Regions from separate parts of the Homo sapiens genome. Here all the other regions are linked to region 1. The links come from fine-mapping of genetic effects on gene expression. A gene starts in region 1. Each other region holds a variant in brackets. All regions are shown on one strand. Distances are between the middles of the regions.

The links. PIP is the estimated chance that this variant, and not a neighbour inherited with it, causes the effect. A credible set is the group of variants that fine-mapping cannot tell apart.
Region 2: its variant is the best candidate, but not a certain one, in a credible set for the expression of TRIM3 in tibial artery (GTEx, PIP 0.80).
Region 3: its variant is the best candidate, but not a certain one, in a credible set for the expression of TRIM3 in nasal epithelium (TOPMed, PIP 0.61).

The regions. Positions count from the first base shown.
Region 1 is chr11:6,472,832-6,475,589 of GRCh38, reverse strand. TRIM3 (tripartite motif containing 3) reads left to right here and starts at 1,649. Exons shown (of 12, transcript NM_033278.4): 1 at 1,649-1,799. RefSeq lists a silencer at 1,523-1,752 and enhancers at 1,110-2,048, 2,049-2,758.
Region 2 is chr11:6,430,846-6,433,603 of GRCh38, reverse strand. It overlaps HPX (hemopexin), which reads left to right. Exons shown (of 10, transcript NM_000613.3): 8 at 1,587-1,717; 9 at 1,801-1,963; 10 at 2,134-2,555. The coding sequence ends at 2,393. Among named protein-coding and RNA genes, the nearest start is that of HPX, 8.8 kb to the left of the region's middle. The variant T/A (reference allele first, on the strand shown) is at 1,390.
Region 3 is chr11:6,501,727-6,504,484 of GRCh38, reverse strand. DNHD1 (dynein heavy chain domain 1) reads right to left here. Exons shown (of 43, transcript NM_144666.3): 4 at 1,559-1,732. Among named protein-coding and RNA genes, the nearest start is that of DNHD1, 5.8 kb to the right of the region's middle. The variant C/T (reference allele first, on the strand shown) is at 1,159.

The DNA.
Region 1 (2,758 bases):
GAGTAGGAACTGGGAGGAATTGCTTGGAATGAAAAATGAAGAGGGAGTGGCTAGATGAAGACTGCAGGCTGGTTAAGGACTTTTGCCCTCTGGAGAAGGAGCTGAGAAGTGTTTTAAGCAGAAATTTGACTGCATGGGAGAAGTATAGAGTTGAGAAAAGTAGTCCTCTGAGGCTTAAGATAGTGTCATCTAGACTCCAGTTCCCTCATCTTGGGTAGCATAGTAGCCCCAGCCCAAAACTGCAAGCATGATCCCCGTCTGGGTTTCCTTCACAAGCACTGGAGCATCTTGTGCTATGTGCTGAACTCAGGTGGATAAGAGGTTGAGGCGGTTCCCAAAGCTCCTGCTGCACCCAGGTGTTGAGCCTAAATCTGAACCTTGTGGAGAGGTCACAAGAAAGATCCCTAACAGCACTTTGGTTTAGTCAGGGCTAGGTGTCATCACCTGTATGCCCTTTGGCCAAGGAAACCAGAATTTTTCAGGATTTTCCCCACCTCTGGAAGGCTGGAGGAAGGGGAAGACCCACTCAGCAGATTCCCATAGTGCAGGGATCCTCACAGGCATGACTTTGCCCTTTGTCATGGATACTGCAGCTCCCAGACAGTCTTCTGGGCTTTGATCAGCCTGCAATCATCTGACTAGAGCTTGATTTTTGGGGCAGGGAAGGTGGTCCTTATATGAGCTGCCACTTAATGGGCCACTGGGGATTTTTCAACATGAAAGGTACCGAGTCTCCAAATGCTGGTTGTAGGGCCTAAAAACAGGGCTCAACTCCAGGTTCTGCCACTTTCTAGCTGAGTGATGAGGGCTAACGTCTGGGGAGCAAGATCCCTATTTTTTCCCATTGTAAAATTGGGCTAATAAAAGATGCTACCTACTGACTATTAAATAATATATGTAAAGTGGCTAGTTCTGTGTCGGCACATAATAACCACTCAGTCCCTGTAAACTGTTACAATTATTTTCCACTTGGGGCTGCTTTTTGCACAAGGCGATGATTCTGAGAATTGTCCAGTGTCTTTGGTGTGAGGAAGGGAGTCGCTGGATGGTCTGAACCAGAATTTCCTCAGGAGGGGGCTCCTGAAGCGCCCAAAGCCTAATCAAATCCCCCACCTTTCTACCCCTTAACTCCTTCTCCCAGAGTTCTGGGTACTGCCCTTCTGCCGCCCAGAGATCGTGCTGAGGTACAGACGGTTTCTACGTCTTCCTGGTCAGCCGATAGACTAGCATATTCCATAGGAGCACTCCAAGGAAGCCGGAAAGGGCGCCTCCAGGAGGCAGGCGGCCCAGACAGGCTCCCAGAGTCCGAAATCCCTGCTGCCCCAGCTGCCTTTTCTTGACGGAGTCTCATCTCAATCCCTGAGACCGACTACACCGCCCTTCCCGGAGCCGGAGGCAGCTGGCGGAGATCCGGGATCCGAGATCCGGGATCCGGCTCGCCGGCCCGCCGGCTCCCTAGCAGCACCAAGGAGGCAGCGTCCGCAGGAGGTGGAGGCGTTGGCGGGGGGGCGTGCGGGTGCGGTAGGGGTGGGCAGGCGGGGTGGGCGGGGCCTCCGCGGCGGCGGGCGGGGCGTGGGTGGGTCTTCCCTACTGGAGTCACCCCCTCCCCCGGCCGGTCCGCAGCCCCGCCCCGGCCCCTCCCTCCGGCCTGTGCGGCTAGTCCGGCGGCGGCGCCGGCGCGGGGACAGGCGGAGGCGCGGGCAGGGCCGGGCGGACGGGCGCTGGCAGCAGTAGCAGCGCCGCGGGCCCTTCAGAGTGGCCGCAGTCCGAGCTTTGCCCTCGCATCCTGTTCCAACGCGGTGAGTGCGACGGGCGGGCCCCAAGGGTGCGTTTGTATTCCTGTCAGCCCGGGTCTGGGTCGGAGCGTCTGTGGGTGGGGGCACAGATGATTTTCAAAAGCTGTGCCTCTCTCTGCCCACGTGAGGCGTGTCCATGTCCGTGAGAGCAGCAGGGGGATTCTTCGGGCTGTGGCTGCTCACGTGAGGTCCCTGTTTTGAGGCGGGGAGGCGCGGGTGGATGGGTGATGGTTCCTTAGGGGAGCGCGGGGTTTGGGAGCTTGTGTGTGTTGGCGGAGGGTGCTGAACGCTGCGGCCGAGGGTGGTGGTGGTGGTGCGTGCTGAGTGGGACTCTGGAATATTGTGGCCCATCTTGTCTGAAGGGCTCTTTTCTCCCTGGTGCAGACACCTCCACCCCTTGCTCCCCCACCCCCACCCTACCCCACCCCCCGCCCCTTCCATCCTCTGGTACCCACAGGCCCACCAGTCAGGATGGAGGACACCCTTTCCTCCCCATGCACTGCTCTGTGGACAGAAAGCCTCATGTGGAGGCTGTTTTTTTGTAGGAAAGGACCCCTCTGGTTCTCCTGTAGCCTGAGCCCTGCCTGGAGGACCCCAGGCCCCTCCCTGGTTCTGACCTCCTCCCTTCTGCAATTGGCTTCAGATCCTGGGCTGCAAACCTGCAGGGACAGATGGTTGCAGGTTGGAGGGGCAGGCTGCACCCCAGGGAGGTCAGTTCGACTGAGGGCAGGCCCTGGGCTTGTTCTTGGTGTGGGGGTTCTCTGATGTGGACAACAGAAACTCAGGACTGGCCCTAGCAGGAAGATCACATCTGGGAGGTCACAGCAGGTGCAGAAAACATCACAGGTCTCCCTTGGCCAGTCTGTCTAGCTCACTGGTGCCCATTCATCCCCTAAGCAGGGGATGATTTGCTGCAGAATTGGAATCAGAGCTGCAGGCCTGACAGTAGCCCTGCCTCCTTG
Region 2 (2,758 bases), 42 kb after region 1:
ATCCGTGCAGTTGTCCAAATTAGAGGTGATGACCGCTTGGACTAGGATGATAGCAGCAGAGGTGGTGAGGAATCACCATGATATATTTTGGAGGTAGAGCTGACAGCATTAACTAATAGCTAAGATAGGCCGGGTGTGGTGGCTTACGCCTGTAATCCTAGCACTTTGGGAGGCCAAGGCGAGTGGATCACCTGAGGTCAGGAGTTCGAGACCAGCTTGACCAACATGGTGAAACCTCGTCTCTACTAAAAATACAAAATTAGCTGGGAATGGTGGCACATGCCTGTAATCTCAGCCTACTTGGGAGGCTGAGGCAGGAGAATCGCTTGAACCTGGGAGGTGAATGTTGCAGTGAGCCGAGATTGCACCATTGCACTCCAGCCTGGGGAACAAGAGTGAAACTCCGTCTCTAAATAAATGAATGAATGAATGATATCAGTCAGAGTAGGGAAGGGAAAAGAGGCTTCAAGAATGACTCAGCTTTCGTGGACTCAGCAACTGAGTGGCTGGTGGTTTTGTTTTCTAAAATTGGGAAAGACTAGGGAGTGTGTGTGTTGGTGGGGGGCAGAAATCAGTTTGGGCATATTAGGTTTTGGGTGCCTATTGGCACCCCATAAGCATGTCAGGTAGGCAGCTGATTTGGAGCCTAAACCTCAAAGGAGAGGTCAGTCAGAGCTGACGAGAACAGATTGGAAGTCATCAGCATATAGATGGCATTTAAAGCCCCTGGACTAGGTGAGATTACCAAGGAAGTGAAGGTAGAGAGAGAAGAGAAGAGGCCCAAAGTAGGGGATTCCAATATTTAGATATCAGGTTGAAGAAAAGAGTAGTCAAAAAAGATAAGAGGAATACTGGGAGAGTCAGGTGTCACAGAAGCCAAGTTCCAAAAAAAGACATTTAAAGGAGAAGGAAGTAGTGAGCAGTCCAGTGCTCCTGAGAGGTAGGGTCAGATGAGAACAGAGAATTGACCATGAGATTTCGCAAATTGGAGAATACTAGCAACCTGGATAAGAACAATTTCAATGGTTGAGGGAAACAGAAGTGTAATTGAAGAGGATTGAGGAAAAAAGACAAATGGGAGCCTAGATAATTCCTTAATAAGTTGTTGTGAAAAGAGGAGAAGAAAAACGGGGTGCTAGCCCAGCTACTCCCTCACTCTTCCACCACCTCATAGGGAGAGACTGGAGAACACAGCCAGAGTGAGAACATTCAGTAGAAGTGGTGCTTCCTTTTTAAGTTCTGGACACTGTATTTCATTATCTATAACCGCATCTCTGTACATGGACACCTGAAATCCTTAGGGAGTGCCCGCCAACCCCATGATGTTGGCCTTACCTGGAAACTTAGCCACTGTTTTCCACACTTGCCTTTCTTTCAGGCACCTGCTGA[T/A]TCCAGTTTCAGCCAGGGCACAGTGCCCAACATTGCTGACCAAGTCTTGCTCTATTTCTCCTTCTCACCTGGCCTCTTCCATCTTGGCCTCTGGATGCATTCTCTCCCTCTCATGACTCATTTCTGCATTCATCACTAGCCTCTTCTCTGCCTGGGCTTCTGCCAGCGGCCCTAGAGCAACCTATGGTATTCCACAGGGACCCACTACTGGCGTCTGGACACCAGCCGGGATGGCTGGCATAGCTGGCCCATTGCTCATCAGTGGCCCCAGGGTCCTTCAGCAGTGGATGCTGCCTTTTCCTGGGAAGAAAAACTCTATCTGGTCCAGGTGTGTATTGGGGGAGAGGCTTGAGGTAGAGACTGGGACAAGCATATCCAACTCTGTATTTATTACCATCCTTTGTCCTCCAGGGCACCCAGGTATATGTCTTCCTGACAAAGGGAGGCTATACCCTAGTAAGCGGTTATCCGAAGCGGCTGGAGAAGGAAGTCGGGACCCCTCATGGGATTATCCTGGACTCTGTGGATGCGGCCTTTATCTGCCCTGGGTCTTCTCGGCTCCATATCATGGCAGGTGAGGGGCTTCTGGGTGCTTAGAGGGCAGCTTGTTCTGCTACCTGTCTGTGGCATAGATCCCCACCAGGGCATGAGAAGGCCTAGGTCAGGATCCCCAGGGCATGAGAAGGCCTAGGTCAGGATCCCCATGACATGGAAGCCATGCTATGTTTGGTGCCTTCTCCCCAGGACGGCGGCTGTGGTGGCTGGACCTGAAGTCAGGAGCCCAAGCCACGTGGACAGAGCTTCCTTGGCCCCATGAGAAGGTAGACGGAGCCTTGTGTATGGAAAAGTCCCTTGGCCCTAACTCATGTTCCGCCAATGGTCCCGGCTTGTACCTCATCCATGGTCCCAATTTGTACTGCTACAGTGATGTGGAGAAACTGAATGCAGCCAAGGCCCTTCCGCAACCCCAGAATGTGACCAGTCTCCTGGGCTGCACTCACTGAGGGGCCTTCTGACATGAGTCTGGCCTGGCCCCACCTCCTAGTTCCTCATAATAAAGACAGATTGCTTCTTCGCTTCTCACTGAGGGGCCTTCTGACATGAGTCTGGCCTGGCCCCACCTCCCCAGTTTCTCATAATAAAGACAGATTGCTTCTTCACTTGAATCAAGGGACCTTGGTCGTGAAACAATCTTCTTTCTTTGAGTTGAAAAGTTAGCACTTCTCCTTTGAGGGTGTCGAGCTCAAACAAGGCTGTGAGAAACAAGGGAGGGGAGCACTAAGGGGCAAACCTATCTCTGCGCAGATGATTCTTAGGTCCAGATCATAAACTAGCTCTTTGCAGACTATCTACACATAGTGGGGGGAAA
Region 3 (2,758 bases), 29 kb before region 1:
AGAGTGAAACTCTGTCTCAAAAAAGACAAAAAGAAAGTGCTGCTGCCAGGGTGAAAGACCATTGCTGAGGCAATGATGGCAGAAAGAGCAAGCAAACGAAGCAGCAAGTCCCTTCCCCTCTTATCTTGCTGTCCAGTCTCCCAGCACTCTCCATTAATCAAACCTAATAGAAGGCCAGCTGAAAAAAGAGAAAAAGTTTGCAGAATCTCAGCCCCAGTATCACAAAGCAGAGAGGGAGGAGGAGAATTAGAATCAAGAGGCAATCAATTAATAACCAGCAGGATGCTCTCAGTGAACATTTATTAAATGAATTGATCAGTAAATGAATGAATGATATTGATCATTAGTGCTACCTAAGTTCAAGAGATCAGTGTGCACAGGAAATAAGGTTATTTGGGAGGCTGTATTAGATACTGCTTAAGAGCATGAACTTTTGGATTAAGATAGTCCTAGGTTTAAATCCTAGTTACACCATTTATTATGTAGCTTTGGATAAATTACTTAACCTCTCTTATGTATCAGTCCACTCATCTCATATATAGAAATAATAATAGCACCTACCTGGTAGATGAGGATTAAGTAACACATGTCATGAGTTTATTAGCACAATGCCTAATATATTGAAGAGTTTGGTTAAAGGCAATTATTACAATTATTTCTGGGAGGAGATGGACTTGAATAGGGCTTTTTAAAATAGGCGAGGATTTGAGCCAGGCATGGTGGCTCATGCCTGTAATTCTGGCAATTTGGCAGGCTGAGGCTTGAACCCAGGAGTTTGAGACCAGCCTGGCAACACAGTGAGACCTCATTCTACAAAAAATAAATTTTAGAAAACTGGCCGAGTGTGGTGATTCATGCCTGTAATCCCAGCTACTCAGGAGGCTGAAGTGAGAGGATTGCTTGAGCCAGAGAGATTGAGACTGCAGTGAGCCATGATTGTGCCACTGCACTCCAGCCTGGGTGACAGAGTGAGCCCTTGCTTCAAAATAATAAGAAGAAATTTTTAAAAGTAGGTGTGATTTGGATCTAATGAGAGGAAGTGAATAAATGTCTCTTGAGTCATGGGGAAGGAGGAGACCTGTTTTTATAGCCCCATAGATAAACTAGAGCCAGGAGGTAGAAGTTAAAAGAATGCAGATTTTGATTCAGTCTAAGGAA[C/T]AAGATACCTGGAAAAAAATTTTCCTGACACTGTAAAGATTTAAACAAACACATGTTTCTTCCATTGGAGTTGGAATAGATCACCATAAAATTTACTTCTAAGGCTGTGAACAAATGTTTCTATCATTCTAGGATAGAATAAAAAAGAAAGAGCAAAATGTGAGAAAAGGATGTGTAAGACAAAAGGCTGTGTAAGCAACAGGGAGTGAAGGGGAGGTAGAGAGTGGAAAGGAGGAGGAGGCTGAGGAGAAGGGAAGAGAGAGGGACACTAGAGTCAGAGGAGGAGTATGTGGAGAAAGGACAGGGAGAAGGGTGCGCACGTGGAGAAAGAGGAGGGGGAAGATAGCATAGAAGGAAACCAGGCAGGGGGAGGAGAAGGGGCCTGGACATAGGCTATCACCTAAAGTACCGGCTGGGAGCCACATTGAGATAGAGGAAGTGGATCTTCTTCAGGTATCTCTCCATCTTCAGAGCAGTCATCACCTGGCTATCCAGGAAGGAAGTCTCAGGTGAAAAGCCGGTGCTGCTCTTTTGGAAGGCCTTTTCCCTGGGAACTTCATAGTCAAGCTGAGACCTGTGTGACAGAAAATCAGGAGAGAAAAGGCAGAGTAAAAAGGTCAAGTACCTTAGAGGGAGGCCTTGCCACTGTTGGCTAGTGAAAGGAGGACTAGATCAGGTGCCTGAGGAGACCTGACGTGGCATTGTCGAGCCTGACTACCATCTATACTCAAAGATACCACATACTGGGCAAATATAGCGTATCATAGAACACAGTTAGGCAACAATATTGACACAAACATGTGTGTGAGCAACCTCTCCCTTTCTGATAAACAAATAATCATTCTGGATTGATTGGAATTACCATGAAGTCAGTATTACATAATACTGTGTACAAATAATGGGAAGACTTTATTTTCCCAACTCATTGCTCTGTAAGCCCACAGTACTGGATTTCCCCTCCCAGCTCAACCTTCTTGGCCTTTCAGATTTAATATCCTATCTTTGATTCCATTATACCTGCTTTCCAACCCTGAATGATCTCCATGCCTGTTACATTTTCTGCTCTTCCCCTACCATCACCCAACCTCTAGCTTCATATTCTTTCCTTTCCTGCCAAGATCCAATGGTGGCCCCCTCAAGCCTGCACCAATACACTCATCCTCTTACTCTTCTGCATTCTGGTCAACAAAATTGGTATGGAAATTAGTTACCAATAACTCAAAAGTGAATGACTAATAATTTTTAGTTGGGGAGACCTGAGAGCACACACACAAAAAAAACTCTGGAATGATTTAACTTAGACTTAGCCAGTCAGAATATACCAGTATCATTAACTGACCCAAACTTAGATCAACACAAGTTTCCCCAGGGATAACAGTGCAATCCTATTCTAGAATTCATATCAACAATATGGTTTATAACCTTTATACATATGTCCTTGATGAACTGTTGTGTTGGATCAGGACATCTTAAATGGTATAATTGCTCTTATAGGTTCATTTTCTCAGCAAAGTCCTATATTATATAGTATATTCAGAAGATCGCAAAACCAAGGACATTTGCTCCTCTACGGGTTCCTGGTGTCCAATCAGCTGTGGGC